4 separate regions of the Homo sapiens genome follow, and regions 2, 3 and 4 are each linked to region 1. Evidence: fine-mapped expression QTL. A gene starts in region 1. Each other region holds a variant in brackets. All regions are shown on one strand. Distances are between the middles of the regions. Region 1 holds the start of PMM2 (phosphomannomutase 2). Region 2 overlaps PMM2 (phosphomannomutase 2). Region 3 overlaps CARHSP1 (calcium regulated heat stable protein 1). Region 4 overlaps CARHSP1 (calcium regulated heat stable protein 1).

What was found. PIP is the estimated chance that this variant, and not a neighbour inherited with it, causes the effect.
Region 2: its variant is the best candidate, but not a certain one, in a credible set for the expression of PMM2 in lymphoblastoid cells (GTEx, PIP 0.72).
Region 3: its variant is the best candidate, but not a certain one, in a credible set for the expression of PMM2 in blood mononuclear cells (TOPMed, PIP 0.58).
Region 4: its variant is the best candidate, but not a certain one, in a credible set for the expression of PMM2 in whole blood (INTERVAL, PIP 0.69).

What each region holds. Positions count from the first base shown.
Region 1 is chr16:8,794,844-8,799,994 of GRCh38, reverse strand. It overlaps PMM2 (phosphomannomutase 2), which reads right to left and starts at 2,156. Exons shown (of 8, transcript NM_000303.3): 1 at 2,047-2,156. The coding sequence starts at 2,112. It overlaps TMEM186 (transmembrane protein 186), which reads left to right and starts at 2,356. Exons shown (of 2, transcript NM_015421.4): 1 at 2,356-2,383; 2 at 3,405-4,815. The coding sequence starts at 2,381. The coding sequence ends at 4,043. RefSeq lists a silencer at 468-517 and enhancers at 1,373-2,067, 2,380-2,429, 2,068-2,762.
Region 2 is chr16:8,826,232-8,831,382 of GRCh38, reverse strand. All of the region lies in intron 7 of PMM2 (phosphomannomutase 2), which reads right to left. Among named protein-coding and RNA genes, the nearest start is that of PMM2, 31 kb to the right of the region's middle. RefSeq lists an enhancer at 1,304-1,905. The variant C/T (reference allele first, on the strand shown) is at 2,246.
Region 3 is chr16:8,851,049-8,856,177 of GRCh38, reverse strand. CARHSP1 (calcium regulated heat stable protein 1) reads left to right here. Exons shown (of 4, transcript NM_014316.4): 4 at 852-3,231. The coding sequence ends at 1,014. LOC100130283 (a long non-coding RNA gene) reads right to left here. Exons shown (of 5, transcript NR_147908.1): 3 at 5,128-5,129; 4 at 961-1,144. Among named protein-coding and RNA genes, the nearest start is that of CARHSP1, 15 kb to the left of the region's middle. The variant A/G (reference allele first, on the strand shown) is at 2,753.
Region 4 is chr16:8,859,577-8,864,727 of GRCh38, reverse strand. The region is part of intron 1 of CARHSP1 (calcium regulated heat stable protein 1); the gene reads left to right. It overlaps LOC100130283 (a long non-coding RNA gene), which reads right to left. Exons shown (of 5, transcript NR_147908.1): 5 at 4,311-4,600. Among named protein-coding and RNA genes, the nearest start is that of CARHSP1, 6.9 kb to the left of the region's middle. RefSeq lists enhancers at 342-501, 4,098-4,812. The variant A/G (reference allele first, on the strand shown) is at 2,477.

The sequences.
Region 1 (5,151 bases):
TTTTTCTTTAAAAAACTTTTTTAGAGTAATACATGAATGTGATTAAAATTGTACAGAAGGGTTTGTAATAGAGTGCAATCTTTTCTACTCTCACAGTGGAATCTGGACCTATTAGACAGAATCTAGAATTGGAGGAGTGGCCTTTAAAAGTCAGAACACGGTGGCTCACGCCTGTAATCCCAGCACTTTGGGAGGCCGAGGCGGGTGGATCACGAGGTCCAGAGATAGAGACCATCCTGGCCAACACAGTGAAACCCCATCTCTACTAAAAATACAAAAATTAGCCAGGCGTGGTGGTGCCTGCCTGTAGCACCAGCTACTTGGTTGCCTGAGGCAGGAGAATTGCTTGAACCTGGGAGGTGGAGGTTGCAGTGAACTGAGATTGGGCCACTACACTCCAGTCTGGTGACAGAGTGAGACTCTGTCTTAAAAAAAAAAAAAGAGTCAGAACTGTGAAAATCAGAAAATCAGAAGCACTTTCCTGAATGGCATACCCAGTGACTAGAACAGCTTCCACCTTAGCACAGATAGGAAATGGCAAACTTGACAGGAACCAATATCCTGAGGCCCAGAGACTTGTACCAGGTTGGCTGTGTGAAACTGAGGAGGTTAGTTCTTCACTGAGTGTGTTTCCTTATGTTTAAAACGGTAATAACAACTATCCTACCTGGGAAGAAAGATGGAGGAAGGTTGAGAGGGTTCAGTGATATGAAAAAGGGTGGCAATGTAAACCCTAGACCACTATGGCCCACAGACCACATTGGGCAGCTGTTTGTTTTTGTAATAAATAAATAAAATTTTATTGGTACACAGCCACTCTTATTTATATAGGGTTTATGGCTGGTTTTGCACTAAAGTTGAGTGGTTACTATAGACCACATAGTCAGCAAAGACAGAGAAGTATTTGCTATATGGCCCTTTACAAAAAATGAATTGGGGACCGGAGTTTTAGACCACTATGGGCTTTTAACAAACCCAAGTGTGTGATCACTGAATTTCAGAATCAGAAAAAGCCTTTGAAGAACTTGGGAGTTGAGCGTCATCACTAGGTAAATCAAACCTGTGGCTGAGAAGGGCAAAATGATACGTCTAAGGTCACACGCATTTGACCTGGACTTCTGGAGCACACCATTGTTACCACCAAGCGAAAACTATGAGGGGTGAGGGTAGAAGCTGAGGATAGTGAGACCATTGGGGTCCAGTCTCAAGTTGAAATGGCCAGTGTTCAGTGGCCAATTTCTGAAAAGGGGCCAGGAGAGCCTCACCTCAAGGCTGATCGTAACTGAAACTTATCTGTGCCTGTAGCAGCAAAATCTGAAAGTGGAAAGCAAGTTTCCAAGGGCCCAAAGAGGCTCTCAGCGGGCAGCCTGTAATAACCTAGGGCTCCTCCATCTCCCTAGTCCATTGCAGGGGCTGGAGATGGGTGTGGTGGAGGTGGCTACTATTTACTGAGGCCTAGTGTGTTGTGTCCAACATACTTTCAAGAACTTACACAATCTCATTTGATCCTCACAGACACCATATGGAACAGGTAACATCCCCATTTAAAGCTGTAGATGTTGAGGCTCAGAGAGGTTAATGACTCGCTGAAGGTCACACAGATGTCAAGAGGTGAAGATGAGACTCCACTAGGTCGGTTTGACCTGGAAACCTGTTTTTAATATCATGACTCACGGCACAGCCCATTGGTTACAGGATTGGGGCCGACACATAGCTGATAAGGGGGCCTGATCTTGGGTTGAAATCCTGGTCTATCAGTCCCGAGCACTAGCGGTGAGTCCAGATTACATTTTCCAACCTAGCACAAGTTTCCTGCTCTTAAGAGTTCTTCAGCCCCGTCTCATCTTTCCAAGCACCAGAGCTCTTCAAGAGCTGGTTAGGGCCTCCCTCTCATTCCTCCAGTGCACCCAGAATAGGGTTCAGCGCCGTGAGGACGTAGGCGGTCCTTAGCCACCCCTTGGCGCCTACCCTGGGTGGTCGATAGCCCCAACTGGGAACAGCACGGGCTCCGCGTCGGCTGCCAGCAGCCCGCCGGCCGCCACTTACCTGCCGCGGGGCGGTGAGGGTCCCATCCACGTCGAAGAGGCAGAGCGCTGGGCCAGGCGCTGCCATGTCCCCAGTTTCTAGCCGCACCTTACAAGACACGTTGGCACGAGGAACTCGGCCCGGAACTTCCGGGTTCGGCCGCTGAGTCGCAGGGCACGTCGGGAAGAGGAGGGGACTCCGTTCCCATAACGCCTGGGAGTAGCGGCAGCCACGATTCCTGGACCGCAACTCCCAGGGTGCAACGCAGATCACGCCCGCCTTGTACATTCGAGCATGCGCTCTTAGGGGTTCCGGGGGCCGGTGGGATTTACTTCCGGCAGCAGGTGGTGGGGCCATGGTAAGGAGGCGGGTGGCGAGCCTTGAGGGGGTGATGCTCTTTGGGGTCGGGGTCAGGGCTGGGGCGGGCAGGCCCGACGCTCGGGTTTCGGACTCCGAGGATCCGTGGGAGGAAGCTCTGGCGTGTGTTACAGTTCGCTTTTCCCGGGCTTTCTCTTGCCCTCCTTGGGTCACATGCGCACAGTAGTAGTAGCTAAAACTCGCCGAGCTCTCACAGTGCATTAGGTACTAAGTTGAGGACTCTGAAACCATCCTCTGGTTCACTGTGTTCTGAGTCCCCATTTTGAAAGGCGAAGAAACCGAATCTCAGGGGTGTGGAGTAATTTGCTCACAAATTACTGTTGGAGCCAGAATTGGAATAAGAGCTTTTACTGCTTCACTACCCACCTAGTAATACCCTTGTGCTACGTGTTGGGGCCTCCCTGCCTCGCTCCTTCTCCTTCTCCGCTGTTTCCCCTTCCCCAGACTAGGCTAAGAGAAAGCAGCAGTTCCCTCCAGCACCCAAGATAGCATATGAATCAAACAGAGAATTAGAAAGTTTATTGGAATAAATATCTCACAGATTTGTTGCTCGAGTTCCCCACTAAGACACTGATTATTTAGTTTCCTGCTTGGGGAAATGTTCACACCCCCTTGTGGATACATTGTCCAGCCCAGAGTTTGTCCTCCCTGGATATGTTTTGAATTAATGACGGCCGCACCTCCTTTCCTGTATTTATTTGGAATTGCCTGGTGGAAGGAGGACTCTGCTGCACTCACTGACTGTGTGATCTTTGGTAAATATCTTACCCTCTCTGGGCTTAGTTTCCCTAGTGGTAAAGTGGAAATAGTGATAACTATCTTAGATAGCTGTTGTGATGCCCACATGAGATAGCATCTGGCTTTACCCTTCCCTCGTCTGGCAATAACGGTTACCTTGCAGGATTGGCAGAAGCCTTAGAGTATGGTGCTTTGCAGATGTTCACCGTGTGATTAATGTGGTTGAGTTCCATGAGAGAAATGGTCTACTGTCTCCCTTTCAGGCTGCCCTTCTCCGAGCTGTGCGTAGGTTTCGGGGAAAAGCTGTGTGGGAAAGGCCTCTCCATGGGCTGTGGTGCTGCAGTGGGCAGGAGGATCCTAAGAGGTGGGTGGGCAGCAGTTCACCCATCTCGAAGGAGAAACTACCAAACGCAGAGACTGAGAAATTCTGGATGTTTTACCGTTTTGATGCCATCAGAACCTTCGGGTTCCTGTCACGACTGAAGTTGGCACAGACTGCCCTGACAGTGGTAGCTTTGCCACCAGGCTATTACTTGTACTCCCAGGGCCTCCTCACTCTCAACACCGTGTGCCTCATGAGTGGGATATCGGGCTTTGCCCTGACCATGCTGTGCTGGATGAGCTATTTCTTACGGAGACTGGTTGGTATCCTGTATCTGAATGAGTCTGGCACCATGCTGCGGGTGGCCCATCTGAACTTCTGGGGCTGGCGGCAGGACACATACTGTCCCATGGCAGATGTGATTCCCCTGACAGAAACCAAGGACCGGCCTCAGGAGATGTTTGTGCGTATCCAGCGGTACAGTGGGAAACAGACCTTCTACGTCACCCTGCGCTATGGACGCATCCTGGACAGAGAGCGTTTCACACAGGTGTTTGGGGTACATCAGATGCTCAAGTGAACAACTGGGACCTGGACCTCTGGGTAACCCTGGGTCGCCTGGATTAACAGGAAGGCTGAGGGTGTGGGCAAGGCTGAAGAAAGGGGACTGGGTACTTGGAGACTTTGCCTGGGCCCCTGGGAACATGTGTTTTGTGGTGAATAAATTCACAAGGCAAGAGCTGGTGTACAGGTTTAGGAAAAAGGCTCTAAGCAAGTTCTTACAGCACTTGTTTGTGACATTCAGTCAGATAATGGCCAGAAGTTTTTGTTAAGAGCCAGTTCTTAGAAGAACCTATGCCAAGGTCACCCATAGAGTCCATTGGTGTGAAAGAGAAAGGCAAAGAGGTGTGGCGGGGGAGCGTAAGATTTGGAGTCAGAAGTCTCAGTTCTGTCATTTGTCCTGGAGCAGGTTATTGAGTCTCTTTGAATCTTGGTTTTCACATCTGTAAAATGGAAAGTCCTGCTTGTTTCATGGGATGGGTGTGGGAATAAACAATAAATGTCAAACGTGTGGCAGACTCAACAGCCTACAGCAGATATTATTAAGCATTTGGTCAGAGGTTTTAGCAGGGAGAAAGGCTTCGAGCAGTCAGCAGGGACTTCCAGAGCCCTGTGCTGTGCCCCTCACATATCCAGCGGCAGAAGGGTCTGTCAGGATGTTAACTACACATTGACGAGCAGATGTCGTCCAGGTAGGCACGAAACCCCAGTTGAGATTTGTTCACCACCCAGAGGTCTAGAGGCTCTTGCTTTGGATGGCCCTGCAGTGTAATAAAGCCAAATGCACCGGATGCTGGTACGTTATTTTATAAACTTAAGCCAGTTATATACATTGCCCCACATAATTAATAATATATGTTCATTATACAATTTGTAACACAGTAAAGAGGAAGGAAGGCATGATCTTTATTATTTTGCCACTCGAAAGTCAATAAGAATGTTTTATCGCTGGGGGCGGTGGCTCACACCTGTAATCCCAGCACGTTGGGAGGTCAAGGTGGCGGATCACGAGGTCAGGAGATCGAGGCCATCCTCGCTAACAGGGTGAAACCGTGTCTCCACTAAAAAATACAAAAAAATTAGCTGGGCGTGGTGGCAGGTGCCTGTAGTCCCAGCTACTCGGGAGG
Region 2 (5,151 bases), 31 kb before region 1:
CTTGCTATGGATGTTTATTTTGGTTGTTTAACAAGTATTTATCAAATTTCTAGGTATTATGGATGCAGGGACTGAAACCACATTTGCAAAAATTATAACTGAGAAAATGTTAACAGTGAAAGAGATCTGGCCTGACTCCATCTTGCTTCTAACCTCCAAGCTGTCCTTGTTCATTCCAGGGCACAGGCTGAACTAACCTTGGGAGGAATTCAGTTTATAGTTCAACTTTGTTTTTTTTGTTTTTGGAGACGGAGTCTCACTCTGTCACCAAGGTGGAGTGCAGTGGCACACTCTCGGCTCACTGGAATCTCTGCCTCCCAGGTTCAAGTGATTCTCCTGCCTCAGCCTCCCGAGTAGCTGGGATTACAGGTGTGCACCACCACACCTGGCTAATTTTTGTACTTTTAGTAGAGGCGGGGTTTCACCCTGTTGACCAGGCTGGTGTCAAACTCCCGGCCTCAAGTGATCGGCCTGCCTCAGCCTCTCAAAGTGCTGGGATTACAGGCGTGAGCCACCCTGCCCGGCCTATAGTTCAACTTTGAAACAAAGGATAACAGCTCTTTCCTGAAATAAACCCCCTTCTTGCCTGGGGACCAGTCTGCCTTTGTAGGACTAACAAATTAGTTACAAGATTAGAAATTATGGTTTTGGAGCCACGGAGCCTCTGGCTGCAAGAGTCTGAACCTCCCCACATTGCTCCTGAGAATAACATCGCTTGTAAATCCTAAGATCAGTGCTTGAGGTATTTTGCAGACCCTGCCTTCCAATGCAGCAGTTGACGCCACCCAGACAGGTAATATGATTCAACCGGCACTTTGATCCCACCCAAGGACAGAAGACAGCAAGAAAAACTCACTTCTACCCCCTATGATTTCATCTCCATGCTGACCAATCAGCAATCCACACCTCCAGAGCCCCTACCCACCAAGTTATCCTTAAAAACTCAAATCCCCAAATTCTTGGAGACTGATTTGAGTAATAATAAAACTCCAGTCTCCTGCACAGCTGGCTCTGTGTGAATTAGTCTATTGCAATTCTCCTGTCTTGATAAATTGGCTGTCTAGGCTGTGGGCAAGGAGAACCTGTGGAGGGGGTTACAAATTTGGGGGCTCATCTGTGATCTCCCTTGTGGCTATCTTCCAGCGATTCAGTAGCCTCCCCAACCCCCCTCACTGGTGATGGATCCAGAGGCCAGCCCAGGCGGCCACCTAGTTCTCTTCGACTGGGGGCTGACACTGGCACCATCTCTACTAATGGGGTGCTGCCAACCCATGGTGTATGGATTTAACTGCAATAAACAGTCCTGGGGAGACGTCCTGTAACTGTAGCCCCATCACAGGGTATCTGTCTGTAGCCCCATCATTGGGTGTCTGCCTGTAGCCCCATCATGGGGCATCTCTAGCTCTATTAGGTGGTATCTGTTTGTAGCCCCAGCATGGGGTATCTGCCCTAATTGTACAGAGAATAGGGGACTTGTTTGGAGGAATACTCTTGGTTTGTGATTTAGTCTGGAAACTCTTTCTGGAAGGTGTTTTGCTGTATGTGTTTGTATATGTGGAGGAGATGTCTAAGGGAATTGCTGAAGGAAGTCCATCAGGCTCTCCTAGTTTGTCTGGTTGGTCACATTCACTGAACCCTGAAGGACTTGTCAGCAGAAGCTCGGAAGTTTGACAGGGCTGCCTCGAGGGTGACCATCCGCTCTTCCATCTGGCTCAGAGACCATCCTTTGAATTCCCGGTGGAAGGCGTCCCTTCCCACCTTGAGTGGAGTGGATCAAAGATGACAGAGACCAACGGGAGCAAGTGTGAGCCTTGCCAAGTTGATGCTGGGCACTGAGCATAGTGACTAGTTTTGTCATGTGTACTCTGCTCTGGCCAGGATGGAAAATGTTAATTCAGTTCCCCATGCAGCCCATTGGGCAGCATCTTGAAAAATTGAGAGGCTTTTGCCTGTGGTTCCATAAAACAGAAACGGATGGTTTTCCTTTGCAATGCGACTTGGCGCCCACAGCTAGCGTGCAGCGATCAGGGTCATCAAGAGCTGCTCCGTTCTTCTGGAAGCTACAGAGAATGGGAACCCAGAAACCTGACATGCAGGCAAAAAGGGTAAACATTTCTTACCAGCCAGGCTTCTGGCCCCTCTCGCCGTGTATGAATGGAAAACATCACTGTTTGTCTCCTCTGCAAGGGTCTGATTAATAGAAAAAATCTTATGAGCCTAGACTTAGGCTGTAGGGAATCTGGTG[C/T]ACTCTGTGCTGTGAATACAAATCCCCAGCTACTCTGGAGGCTGAGGCAGGAAAATCACTGGAACCCGGTGGGTGGAGGCTGCAGTGAGCTAAGATCGCACCACTGCACTCCAGCCTGGGCAATAGAGTGAGACTCCATCTCAAAAGAAAAAAGAAAAACAAAGACAAAGGCACAACCAGCTCTCACATGCCTCAGATGAATCACACATCCTCTCTCCTCACTCAGTGACTTAGGAGGGGGAGTCAGTATTCACACATTAATACGACACACCTTTCTAGAACACCTACTACCTGCCAAGCATTGCTTTAGTAGCTGGAGATACAGCGCAAACCAAACCCACTCACAGCTGCATCCTCTGTCATGGAGAGCAGGACCACAGAATAGGATGTGGACATAGGACCCCTCTAAGCCCGCTGTTCAATCCAGCCTGGCAGACTGGTCAGTTCCAAACTTTGCTCCAACAAAAACCAGATAAGGTTTCCCTCTTCTCTTGTTTTACGTCCTGAAAAACTTGACTTTGGGACCATGTCAGGGTACCCTCTTTTGGTCTCCGGCATCCAGAGGGCATGAATTTTTGGGTTCATGTCGGTAGCTGGTCTGAGAGGACATGTGACAGTGTCATGTCTAGCCTTAAGAATTATCTTGAGTAAAGTCCTGGATTCCCAGGAAGACCAGTGTAACAGCCTTCAGCTTTAGCTCAGTAGCTGAAGCTTTGCTATTTCACAGTGGTAGCCTGGGTCTGGTTCCCAGCTTACGGAATGGGTGCTCTCTGGTTTGTTATTTATGTAAGTTTTTTTTGTGTGCCATTTATTGATTCTTTCCCCACCATGGACAGCTTGCCTTGAAATCTGCCTTAAATTTTCTTTTCTCTAAACTACGTTTGGGGAGATTCTAAATCTTGTAAAAGAAAAAAACAAAAAACTGCTTACCATCCCTTTGAGACATCTTATACTTCTGTAGTTAAGTCATAATCTTAGATAAGACTTATTAATTTTGCTAGGAGGTTACCTGTGGTAAAGTTCAAAAGCCAGAAATACTGGCTGTCTATCCTGGCTAGAGTCTGGTAATAAGAAATTTAAAAAGATTTTGTAAAAAAAAAAAAAAAAAAAAAGAGTTCTACAGTTAAAATCTGCTTAATTAAAAATGGATATCCAAGTTTTATATATATATATAAATTTATAAATATATATATTTATAAATATATATTATATATAAAACATAATATATATAATATATATCATATATATCATATATTATATAACATATATATAATATATAACATATATATTATATATTATACAATATATATAATATATATTATATAAATATATAAATATGTATAAATATATATAAATATATATATATAAATGTGTGCATATATATATATATATATATATATATATATATATATATATATGCACACATTTAAAAGGCCTTTGTGGGCTGGGTGCAGTGGCTCATGCCTGTAATCCCAGCACTTTGAGAGGCTGAGGCAGGGGGATCACTTGAGGTCAGGAGTTCAAGACCAGCCTGGCCAACATAGTGAAACCCTGTCTCTACTAAAAATACAAAAATTAGCCAGGCCTGGTGGCGTGTGCCTGTGGTCCCAGCTACTCGGGAGGCTGAGGCACGAGAATCACTTGAACCCGGGAGGCAGAGGCTGCAGTGAGCTTAGATCATGCCATTGCACTCTATCTAGCCTGGGTGACAGAGCAAGACTCCATTTCAAAAAAAAATAAAAATAAAAATAAAAAAATAAAAAAAAGGCCTTTGTGCTTTTTCTCTTCCTGGATTTTTTTTTTTTCTTCGAGGAATGAGTTTTTGTTTGTCTTTCTTCTCAGTCAACTGAATTATTTCCCCAGTCTGTCTTCCTGCCACTCTGAATGCCCACATGAGAGGACCTAAGGTACTTTCTGACAGCTGGGGACTCCTTGGGAAAAAGAGAGAAGGCTCCACAGACCCTGTTTTGGGAGAAACTCTGTTTTCCTCATAAAACCCCAAGAAGTGTAAGCAGACAGACCCCTCTCAAAATCTAAGGCTCTGTTCTGTTTTGAATCACATTACTTGGCCTTTTTCACTTTTGAGGGCATCAGGAATTACTTTAGTAGGGGAGAGAGATATGTGAAAAAAGTTGAGGCTATAAAGATGTATTTTTGGTAAGGATGATTATAAAAAAAGAAATTTATATGAGAAAAGATCTTGTATGGTAAATTCTTGTCCTAAAATAGAACGACTGATTATTCACGAAAGAGGGACACATAGGACAAGTCAGACAGTCCAAGCATGGCATAGATGGTCTCTGTGAGTCGTGACAAGATTTGTAAAATGGGGAAAAAAAACCCCTAAAAAATCAGCAAATGAAAAATCTTAACTAATGCATCTTCTTCGGTCTATATATTTATAATGTTGTGTGTGTGATGTTTAAGAGCTGTAATTAATTGGCTTAAAAAATAAGCACTTAAATATTTTTTCAAAGAAATAGCAACTCTAATGCATTTTAGTTCACATGACGTTAGTAATCTTTGGTAAATAAAGATAGTTTTAAAGATTATTGATGAAATAAAACTGTCTTCATTTGGTCTGAATTAGGCAGATCAGATACTGTTTCTGCTGGATGCTTTAAGGTCATAAGTGGCTTCTGTGACTTTTGTAATTGTTCAATTTACCTACTTTAGAGCCATTAGATTCCAGATAAGGCCTGGGGACATATGGAGGTAGCCATGACTCCTAGCTAGGCCAGAGAGAGTCAGACTTTATCTGCAGTTCTGTCCTGTATTCTAGGCTCTGCACTTGGTATGTAATTAAAACTGCTTAAAGACATGGGAATATGGGTTTTTTTAAAAGAGAAAATCTTCTCTAATTTAGAGAGTTTAAAGATTATTTTTGGTTGAAAGACAAAATAAAA
Region 3 (5,129 bases), 56 kb before region 1:
TCACAGGGAGAGGCCCCTCCAGGAACTAGCTTCATGCACCAAAGGGACCTTCTTGAAGGCTCACCGGGAGTCCAGGCGTGGTGGCTCACGCTTGTAATCCCAGCACTTTCGGAGGCTGAGGCAGGTGGCTCACTTAAGGTCAGGAGTTTGAGACCAGCCTGGCTAACATGGTGAAACCCTGACTTTGCTAAAAATACAAAAATTAGCTGGCTGTGGTGCCTATAGTCCCAGATACTTGGCTGAGGCAGGAGAATCACTTGAACTCGGGAGGTGGATGCAGTAAGCTGAGATCACACCACTGCACTCCAGCCTGGGCAACAGAACAAGACTCTGTCTCAAAAAAAGGCAGGCTGGGAAACTGGGGAATTTGAGAACAAAGACACGGTGCGGTTTCTGAGACTCCTGGAACCAGGGGCTGCAGTGCTGAGGACCTCAGGAAAGCCCTGCCCAGGCCACCCCTCAACTCGGATTCTCACTCCATGATGGCCTTGTTTCTCTCTGGCTCTCTGGCTTGGACTGGCTGTCTTTACTCTTCAGTCACAAGCCCAGGCTCCCTCCCACATTTCATGTCACCATGTGAGCACCCACAGGTGGCTGAACTCTTTCAGTTCCAGCATCAAAAGTCCCAGGGAAGGAGCTGATTGGGCCAGGGCCTCCTTGCCTAGGACAGAGGCTGGGGGCAGTGTGGCAGCTCCCTCTGGTGGAGGGGCAGTTCTTTGGAAAGAGGTTCCCGGTGGTTGGTCAGATGGTGCCTGCTTTGGTGGCTGTGTGACCAGAAGGGTGGCTGGTGTCTTGGGGAAGGGAGCTGTGTCCCGGTGTGAGCCCTGACTGCTTTATTTATGCCCCCGTAGTGTGGAAGGGGAGTATGTCCCAGTGGAAGGCGACGAGGTCACCTATAAAATGTGCTCCATCCCACCCAAGAATGAGAAGCTGCAGGCCGTGGAGGTCGTCATCACTCACCTGGCACCAGGCACCAAGCATGAGACCTGGTCTGGACATGTCATCAGCTCCTAGGAGATGGTGGAAGCACCCCTTGTCCTGTGCTTGTGGGAGACTTTGCAGGGAGGAGGCAGCAGACACTGGAGATGACATTCTTCCACACGAGACGGGGCTTCAGCCGGGCATGGTCCCTCTCAAGTATCTCCTGGAGGAAGGGGTATGGGGGGCAGGTGTGGGGTGTGGGGTGTTCCCGGCCATCAGCACAGCCTATGACCATTGCAACAACCTCTCACCATCTGAAGAGCATTAAAAGCATTTAAAAAGGAGAGGTGCCCACTGGTGGCTGAGTGGAGGTTCCAACCCCATCCCAGGGAGTGGATCAAGGGTGGTATTTCTCCAGCTGCTCAGACACATGGGCTCAACCCACAGAATCCCTCTTCCTCCTGGAGCTGGAGGCCCCAGATTCCCAGATCTGGCCCCCTGGCAGCCTGACAGGGACCTTGCGTGACTTCTCCAAGGCAAATTTCCACCTAAGTGCCCCTTGCGCCTCTCCTGGGGCCTGGGCAAAGCAGTTTTCTAATTCTTGGCTTGGTTGGTTCTAGGGGAGCTGGCTTGAAGTGGGTGGGGAAAGGCGGGGGTGGCGGTCTTTGGATTGGACGGATGTTGCCTTTTGGTGCCTTTGCAGTGGGAGGCGGCATAGCTGCCTGTCTGGGGAAGACAGTTCTCCCAGCACTCCCACCCCTGGGCACAGCAGGCTGGTACTGGGAGGCTGAACCCCTCTTAGAGCCTGACCTTTTCATCTGCCTTCTGGTTGTGTGACCATCACTCAACAGCCATTTCACAGCCCCTGTAATTATGGCGGCGGGGGGCTGGGGTGGTGGTGGTGGGAAGGGCTTGTGGAGAGGACACAGTCTTTGTTTAAAAACTTTGTCCCGATCCATCCAGAAAAGAGTAGGTAGCTTGCATCCTGACAGCCTGGCAAAGTCAAGAAAGTTGAAGGAGAAACATACCTTTGGAGAGGGGGTTTTCTTTAAAACTAGTGTTAAGAAATGCTTAGGGATTTTTTTTTTCTTATTTTTCATAACTAAAGCTTTCACCCAGAGCCGGCTCTGTTTGCACTTTGCTGCCGACATTGCAAACTTTTTGGCAGGGTGGGAGACTGAGTCTCATTCTGTCACCCAGGCTGGAGTGCAGTGGCCCGATCTCAGCTTACTGCAACCTCTGCCCTCCAGGGTTCTGGCAATTCCGCCTCAGTCTCCTGAGTAGCTGGGATTACAGGCATGCGCCACCACACCCGGTTAATTTTTGTATTTTTAGTAGAGACCAGGTTTCATCATGTTGGGCAGGATGGTCTTGAACCCCTGACCTCAGATGATCTGCCCATCTCGGCCTCTCAAAGTGCTGGGATTACAAGTGTGAGCCATCGCGCCCGGCCTGCAAACTTTTTTGTAGGTATTTCTGGTAAACAAATCCTTAGGTTATCTTTGCTGTGGTTGTGGTTTGGCTTTAGTCATGATTTCAAAGTAGAAATAGCTAGGCATTATTTTTTGAAATATATGACCTATATGTAGTCAAGAATCCACTGAACAGAGGCAAGCAAACCTTTTGGAAACTGGCTTTTGGGCAGACAGTAAACGTCCAGTTTGATGCTGGAAGCATGAACAGCTTCATCAGGTAGGTACTCCTCAACTCTGATGAGTTTGTCCTTTCAGCCTAAGGGGGTGGAAGGGAGTTGTTTGAGAATAGCAAATACGCATGTTGATTGCGAGTGTGTGGAGACAAAGGCAGTTCCCACCACAGTTAGGTCCTGGCC[A/G]TTGTTTCCTCGCCTGCGATGCTCCTTGTACATCCTCACCCTCCTCTCCCGCCTCTGCCTTCTGCTGGGTCAAAGGTGGCCTTTTCTCTCCAGCCTTGAATTGTTCCCTGTTGGCTTCCCAAGGGCCCATCTGCTGGTACAGTCCACACTTCCACAGCCAAGACCCGAGAGGGCTTTCACTGCCCCAAGCCTCTCTCCTGTGACCCTGGGATTCTGTCTTGGCAGAATCCTTTGTCAGCGGCTCTTACTCTGTCCTTCCTGTTTGGCCACAGCTCTTTCAATCAATGGGTATTCTAGAACCGCAGGATGTCAGAGCTGGAAGGGACGCGATACCGGTTTACACAAGGGGAAACTCCTCGAGGCTCTGGGAGGGACGGAGGGTTTTGGTGACAGAGCGAGAGCTAAAATTGAGGATTCCTGAATCCAGATCTTGCCTCCCATCAGCCATCTTTCTCCCAATAAATTTTTGTTTTGTGCAAGGCTATGCGTGTGTTTGTGTGGAGGCTGGCTCACCAAGTTTTTCCTTTTAAGTCGTCAGATAAGGGTGTCTCCCCCAGGTGAGGCTGACACATTCCACGTGGCAGTCTGTTTTTTTTAGGGGATGGTGAATAAGAAGATGGGATCATCTGTTTTTTAGTCATCATTCTCTAGCATGAGAAAGCTTAGCAGAGAGGAGAATGCGGCTTCCTGGCAATAGAAAATGCCAGTAACTTGGTCAGCGGCGCTCCAGTGCCCTGTTGAAGCTTTTAGGATGTGTGAGTTACACCTCATCCCCATCAGCTGTGGGAAGAGAGGACGGGCCTCGGGGCACACTGTCCACAGTCCCTGGCTCATTCCTGCTATAGAAGTGTTTTTTGTTTGTGTTTTTGAGACAAGGTCTCGCTTTGTTGCCCTGCAGCCTTAACCTTGTGGGCTCAAGTGATCCTCCTTCAGCCACCTGAGTAGCTGGGACTATAGGCATATGCCACCATGCCTGGCTAATTTTTAAATTTTTTGTAGAGAGCAACTTGCTACATTGCCCAAGTTGGTCTCGAAGTCCTGTACTCAGACCATCCTCCTGCCTCAGCCTCCCACAGTGCTGGGACCAGAGGTGTGAGCCACAGCACCCGGCCACTGCTATAGACATTTGATGAACGTTTGCTAGGGCTGGGCACAGTGGCTCACGCCTGTAATCCCAGCATTTTGAGAGGCCGAGGTAGGTGGATGGCTTGAGCTCAGGGGTTTGAGACCAGCTGGGCATCATGGCGAAACATGGTCTCTACCAAAAATACAATTAGCTGGGCATGGTGGCATGAGCCTGTGGTCCCAGTTACTCCAGAGGCTGAAGTGGGAGGATTGCTGGAGCCCAGGAAGTGAAGGCTGCAATGAGCTGTGAATGCACCACTGCACTCCAGCCTGGGTGACAGTGACACCCAGTCTCAAAAAAAAAAAAAAAAAAAAAAAAAAAAGCTTGCTGCTCTTCAGGCATGAAGTCAGGGGCTGGAAGCAGATGAGGCTTGAGGGCCCGGGGCTGGCAGAGTCCTAGGACGGAGAGCTTTTCAAGGTCCATAGCAGGGGAGGAAGGGTTTGCTGTTGGGGCAGTGGGAGTGAGGGCAGAAGGTGGGCAGGTGTAAGAACTCCTGTTCTTGGTTTCCAGGAGAGCAGTGACAGGCAGGGGCCACTCTATGGGGTCGCTGTGCTCTGTTGGGAAGGCTTTGCTCTGGCCGGTGTCTCCCAAGGGAGGCAGTGATTTTGGGTGGTGCAGAGATGGACACTTTTCTTGTCAGTATTATACAATGATTTCCAAAGCATATTGGGAAAAAACCAGCCCATCAAACCTGTTTAGGGAGAGCCTAACGTAGGCACTTAGCTCAAAACAATGAGATTTGCTGACTTACTTACTATATGGAGTACTACATGGGTAGCCAAGGAAGGGTTTGGCAAAAGCTGAAGGTGGGGAGCGGGCGTGGTAGCTCACGCCTGTAATTTCAGCACTTTGGTAACCGAGGTGGGCAGATCACTTGAGGTCAGGAGTTCAAGACCAGCCTAGGCAACATAGTGAAACCCCGTTTCTACTAAAAATACAAAAATTAGCTGCACGTGGTGGTGCATACCAGTAATCCCAGTTACTTGGGAGGCTGAGGCAGGAAAATCACTTGAACCTGGAGGCAGAGGTTGCAGCGAGCCAAGATTGTGCCACTGCACCCCAGCCTGGATAACAGAGTGAGACTCTGTCTCAAAAACAAAAAAAAAGGCCGGGCATGGTGACTCATGCCCATGCCTGTAATCCCAGTACTTTGAGAGGCCAAGGCAGGTGGATCACCTGAGGTCAGGAGTTCAAGGCCAGCCTGGCCAACATGGTGAAACCCCGTCTCTACTAAAAAGACAAAAATTACCT
Region 4 (5,151 bases), 65 kb before region 1:
TGGGCTCCCTCCCTTGGCCGGGCACTCATCAGAGCCTGGGGGCTGACTGGGGAAGGGGGTGCATGGCCAGCTGGGCACCTCCTGGTGCAGCCTCTCCCCCTTACCCTGCTGGCTTTTTCTCCGTAGCATTTCTGCTGTCTGACTTACTCCGTATTTCACCAGGGTCTTTGTTAGCCGGGCGACCCTGGGCAAGTTACTTGACTCTTTGTGTCTCCGTTCTCCCATTAGTGAAATGGGGATAGAATGAGCTGGGCTGTGTGAAGTGTTGTAAAGTAGTAAGCAGAATGGCCCCAGGACACTGCTGTGGTGGTGGTAGTCATGGTCTGTCCCACTCCCTTATCTGTTGGTTCAATAGGAAGTGGCAGAGTTCATCAAGGTCCCCTGTGGCAGCACAGGTGCCCAGCGTGCTGTGCGGTGAGGTGAGGCTCCCCGCTCCATGGACGTGTGCATACAGACGGCAACAAGTTCACGCATGCATACACGTGTATGCGCTCAGATGCAGAGACAGCCATGTGTGGGCACATATGTATGTGTACACATGCGTATATACACAGCACACACATACACATGTGCATACACCTACATACCTGTGCACAAACGAGCACACATGTACATGCAGCCTGGCAGTCATGACACCTTGGTCGTGACATTTGGTCGAAGTTTGTTGCAGGCCAGAAGCTCATCTGAGTGGCGGATCTGTTTGCAGCCTTCCTCCCTCCCCCAGCTGTGGGGAGCTGAAGGCTAGTCACAGAGGGCAGGCCCTGTCTTCTGCTGGGGACACTCCAAGGCCATGCCTGGTATTGCTGGGAGAGCAGTGGCTGGCTGGAAGCTGGGACTGTGCTGGTGGGCGGGGCTGCTGTGTGGCCCCATCCTTGTGTATGTGTGTATTGTGGAGGGGACACAGCAGAGGCTGGCCAGGGCCTCAGAGCTGGCTTCTGGGTGCCTGGTTACCCGCCCCCCAGTTGTTTTCTTTCCAGCTGGACTTTGCCCGGCCCTCCCCCGCACTGAGGCCATTCACTCCTCTCTGCTGGGCCTACTGGGGAGTGAGTGGCCCTTGGCCAGGCCTACTCTGGCCACCCCAGCTTGGCTTCAGCCCAGATGGGCCATGAGAGGCTGGATAAAGCTCCTGGGTCTCCCAGTTGGCACTGCCCCCGCCCCTAGTCACGTCTGCTCCGTGCCTCAGTTTCTTCCACTATCAGGTGAGCAGGAATGTAGCCACCTCCTGCTGGGCTGGGCATGGTGCTGAGTGCACACCAATGCAGTGGCAGCCAGCTGGGGCTTTGGGTCCTAATGCTGGCAAAGAATGAGGCTTGGAAGCTGGGTGTGGTGGCTCACGCCTGTAATCCCAGCACTTTGGGAAGCCAAGGTGCGCCGATCGCTTGAGCCCAGGAGTTTAAGACCAGCCTGGGCAACATATTGAAACCCTGTCTCTACAAAAAATGAGCTGGTTGTGGTGGCACGTGGCCGTAGTCCCACAACCCAGGAGGCTGGGGTGGGCGGATCACCTGAGCCCAGGAGGTTGAGAGGCTTCAGTGAGCCATGATCGCGCCACTGCATTCCAGCCTAGGTGACCAAGTGAGATCCTATCTGAAAAAAAAAAAAAAAAAAAAAAAAAGCCATCCTTGTGGCCATTCCTGGACCGTCTGGAGACCCTGCTCTGTGCCAGTGCCTGTGCTGGGCCCTTGGGACACAGAGGGGCCCTGTGCTGCCCTCAGACTCCTCACCCCTACAGGCCATGAGCTTCCAGTGGCATCTCTGAAGGATTGGGTGCACTTGGGGTGTTGAGGGGGCTTGGGTGGAGAAAGAAGGGGGCCCCCATTTTGGGTCTGTGCCATTCACCCAGGGGAAAATGGGTGTGACAAATGGAAGATGCAAGGAGGACGACGATGGTGACAATGACAGTGATGATGATGATGACGCGGCATGATTCCTGAGCGGGCCCTACCCTTTCCACCGCCTTTCCTGCCTCCCATTCCTAGTCCCCCACCCATCACATGGTTTCCCCACTGGCCTCAGTCCCACCCGGGCCCTCAGGGCCTTTGCACAGGCTGTTCCCTATACCTGGAACAGCCTCCCTCCGTTTTGCAAATGGCTACCCCTTTCTTGCTGTTCAGGGTCCTGCAGGCACCCTGATTAGCGTGTGTATTCCCACCCTTCTCCCCCTATCCCCTTCTGTCTGTTTCTTTACAGCCCTTTTGGGATCTGTAATGATCTGGTTTATGTTTATTTAACTGTTTATTCTCTGGCTTCAAGTTCAGCCCTTTGTCTCTGGGGCCTTGAACAGGGCTCGGTATTGGGCACGTGTCTGTTGAGTGCCTTTATGATGACAATTATAACAACAGTCGTAGCTGACAATTACTGCTCACTGGACCTGGGCGGACAGTGTGCCCAGTGCTTAGTGTGTATTATTTTGTTTTCAGTTCAGCCTGATGGTGTGAAATCGGGACTATTATAATTCCCATTTTCCAGATGTGGA[A/G]ACTGAGGCCCAGAGAGATTAAGTAACTTGTACAAGACCACACAGCAGGCAAGGGGTAGGATTAGAAGTCAGCTATGCTTCATTAGCCGGGCGTGATGGCGGGCACCTGTAACCCCTGCTACTTGGGAGGCTGAGGCAGGAGAATCACTTGAACCCAGAAGGTGGAGGTTGCAGTGAGCCGAGATTGTGCCATTGCACTCCAGCCTGGGCGACAGCAGGACTCCATCTCAAATTAAAAAAAAAAAAAAAAAAAAAAAAAAAAGTCAGCTATGCTTGACTCCAGGAGAAAGGAGGGAGGGAGACTTTGGATAGAACAAGGCAGGGCAGTGTCTCTAACTGTGGAGTTGCGAGGCCACTGCTCCCATCTGCTGTCCTGGGAGGCCTGGACAGGGCCCTCCCCTCCCAGGGCCAGCCTCTTTCCTGGAACTCTGGGCGTTGAACATTCTAGGACTCTATGACCTGTGCTGGTAGGTCATGCGGGGGCCCTGGCCCCCAGGCCAGCAGCTGGGGCCTTTTTGAGGTGGGGGCTCCCCGGACTCAGGAGTTCCTCCTTGGCCGCGGCTGTAGCTGAGAGAAGGGACAGGAGGTAGGATGCCACCTCCTCCAGAAGGCAAGCCAGCCACCAGCTTCCCAGCCCGACAGAACTGAGGCCCAACGGGAGAGTGCAGCAATGTCTGGGGAGGGGTTCTGACATTTCAGGGATGGGGCATCCCTTCTCCTCTGAGCAGTCGGGCCTGGTTCTTGGGTGGCTATGCTTGAAGGCGGTTCGGGGGGTGCGGTGGGATTTTTGGGTGATGTAGGTTGAAGACTCCTATAAATGAGGGGACTGGGGGGGCAAACTGAGGTTGAAGGTTGTGAGAGCTTCATTTCTTTCCATGAGCAGCTGGAAACCTGGATTTTGAGGAAACCCCCTGGGATGTTTAAGATAGTTCAGGCCGGGCATGGTGGTTCATGCCTGTAATCCTAGCACTTTGAGAGGAAGAGGTGGGAGAATCCGTTGAGCCCAGGAGTTTGAGATCAGCCTGGGCAACATAGTGATACCCTGTCTCTATAAAAAAAAAAAAAAAAAAAAAAAAAAAAAAAAAAAAAAAAATTAGGCATGGAGGTCAAGGCTACAGTGAACTGTGATTATGCCACTGCCCTCCAGCCTGGGTGACAGTGAGACACTGTCTCAAAAAAATAAAAGTTATTTATTTTTTTTTGAGACGGAGTCTCACTCTGTCACCCAGGCTGGAGTGCTGTGGTGTGATCTCGGCTCATTGCAACCCACAGCTCCCTGGTTCAAGCAATTCTCCAGCTTTGGCCTCCCGAGTAGCTGGGATTACAGGCACCCACCACCACGCCCAGCTAATTTTGTATTTTTAGTAGAGACTGGTTTTCACCATGTTGGCCAGGCTGGTCTCCAACTCCTGACCTCAGGTGATCCACCTGCCTCTGCCTCTCAAAGTGCTGGGATTACAGGTGTGAGCCACCGCACCTGGCCCATGCTTCAAATCTAAATTTGAAAACCCCATGGGACCTGAGTCAAACCGATCCAGGGCTGCTGCTGTCCCTCCCGGCTGTGTGGTGTTGAGTGGCGTCCTGAGTTAGTTAGGCTTCTCCCTACTTCATCTCGTACCCCCATCACCAGCCCTGCGCAGGTGCCAAGTGATGCCCACCCAGCTGCCCCACTTTGCAGATTCGGAAACTGAGCCCAGAGATGGGAAAGGACTTACCCAAGGGCCTCTGACTGCTGGACTGTTTCTCTTTCCCCTGAACCTCGAGCTGAGGCCACGTTAGAGCCGACACCTTCATATTCAATGTTCAGTGATTATTGTGTACAGCGAGTGTCCTGCTCTTGAAAAATTGTCAAAAGCACAGCAGCAGCTAGGGAATTCCCGCCCTCCAGCTGGATTTACCGGTACATACTAGGGGTCACAGAAGGAATTTGATTTCATAACAGCGTGGTGACCCGGGCTGTGTGGAAATTCACTGGGCCTGATGGAGCTGGATGCAGCCTTGGAAATTCTCCCTTTCCCTTTGGGCTCTCGCAGCAGGCCCCCCAGTCCTGGGTGCAGGCTTGTGACAGCTGCTCAGGGATCCAAACGTGGCGCTTGAGCTCTCTGCGACGTGTTCCACAGTTCCCTGGAGGCGGACACTGCGTGAGGGTCAGTTTTTGCCCCTGCTTCCCTGTGGTGTCTGGCTCCCAGCAGCGTCAGGGAGGGTCCGTGGAGTGGCTGAGTTTGGATCTAGGTGGTTGGCATTAAAATCTCCCTGGCTTTGGGTTTTCTTTTTTGAGACAGAGTCTTGCTCTGTAGCCCAGGCTGGAGTGCAGTGGTGCGATCTCAGCTCACTGGAACCTCCGCCTCCCAGGTTCAAGCAATTCTCATGCCTCAGCCTTCAAGTAGATGGGATTACAGGTGCCTGCCACCATGCCCAGCTAATTTTTGTATTCGTATTAGAGACTGGGTTTCCCCATGTTGGCCAGGCTAGTCTCGAACTCCTGACATTAAGTGATCCGCCTGCCTCGGCCTCCCAGAGTGCTGGGATTGCAGGTGTGAGCCACTGCGCCCGGCCCCTGGCTTTGGGTTTTCTGCTCACCTTCCTCCTTCCCTCCCACAAATACTATGTGTCCCAAATGTGCCGGGATCCATGCCTTGTGCTGGGGACACAGAGGGGACCGATGCCATCCTGGT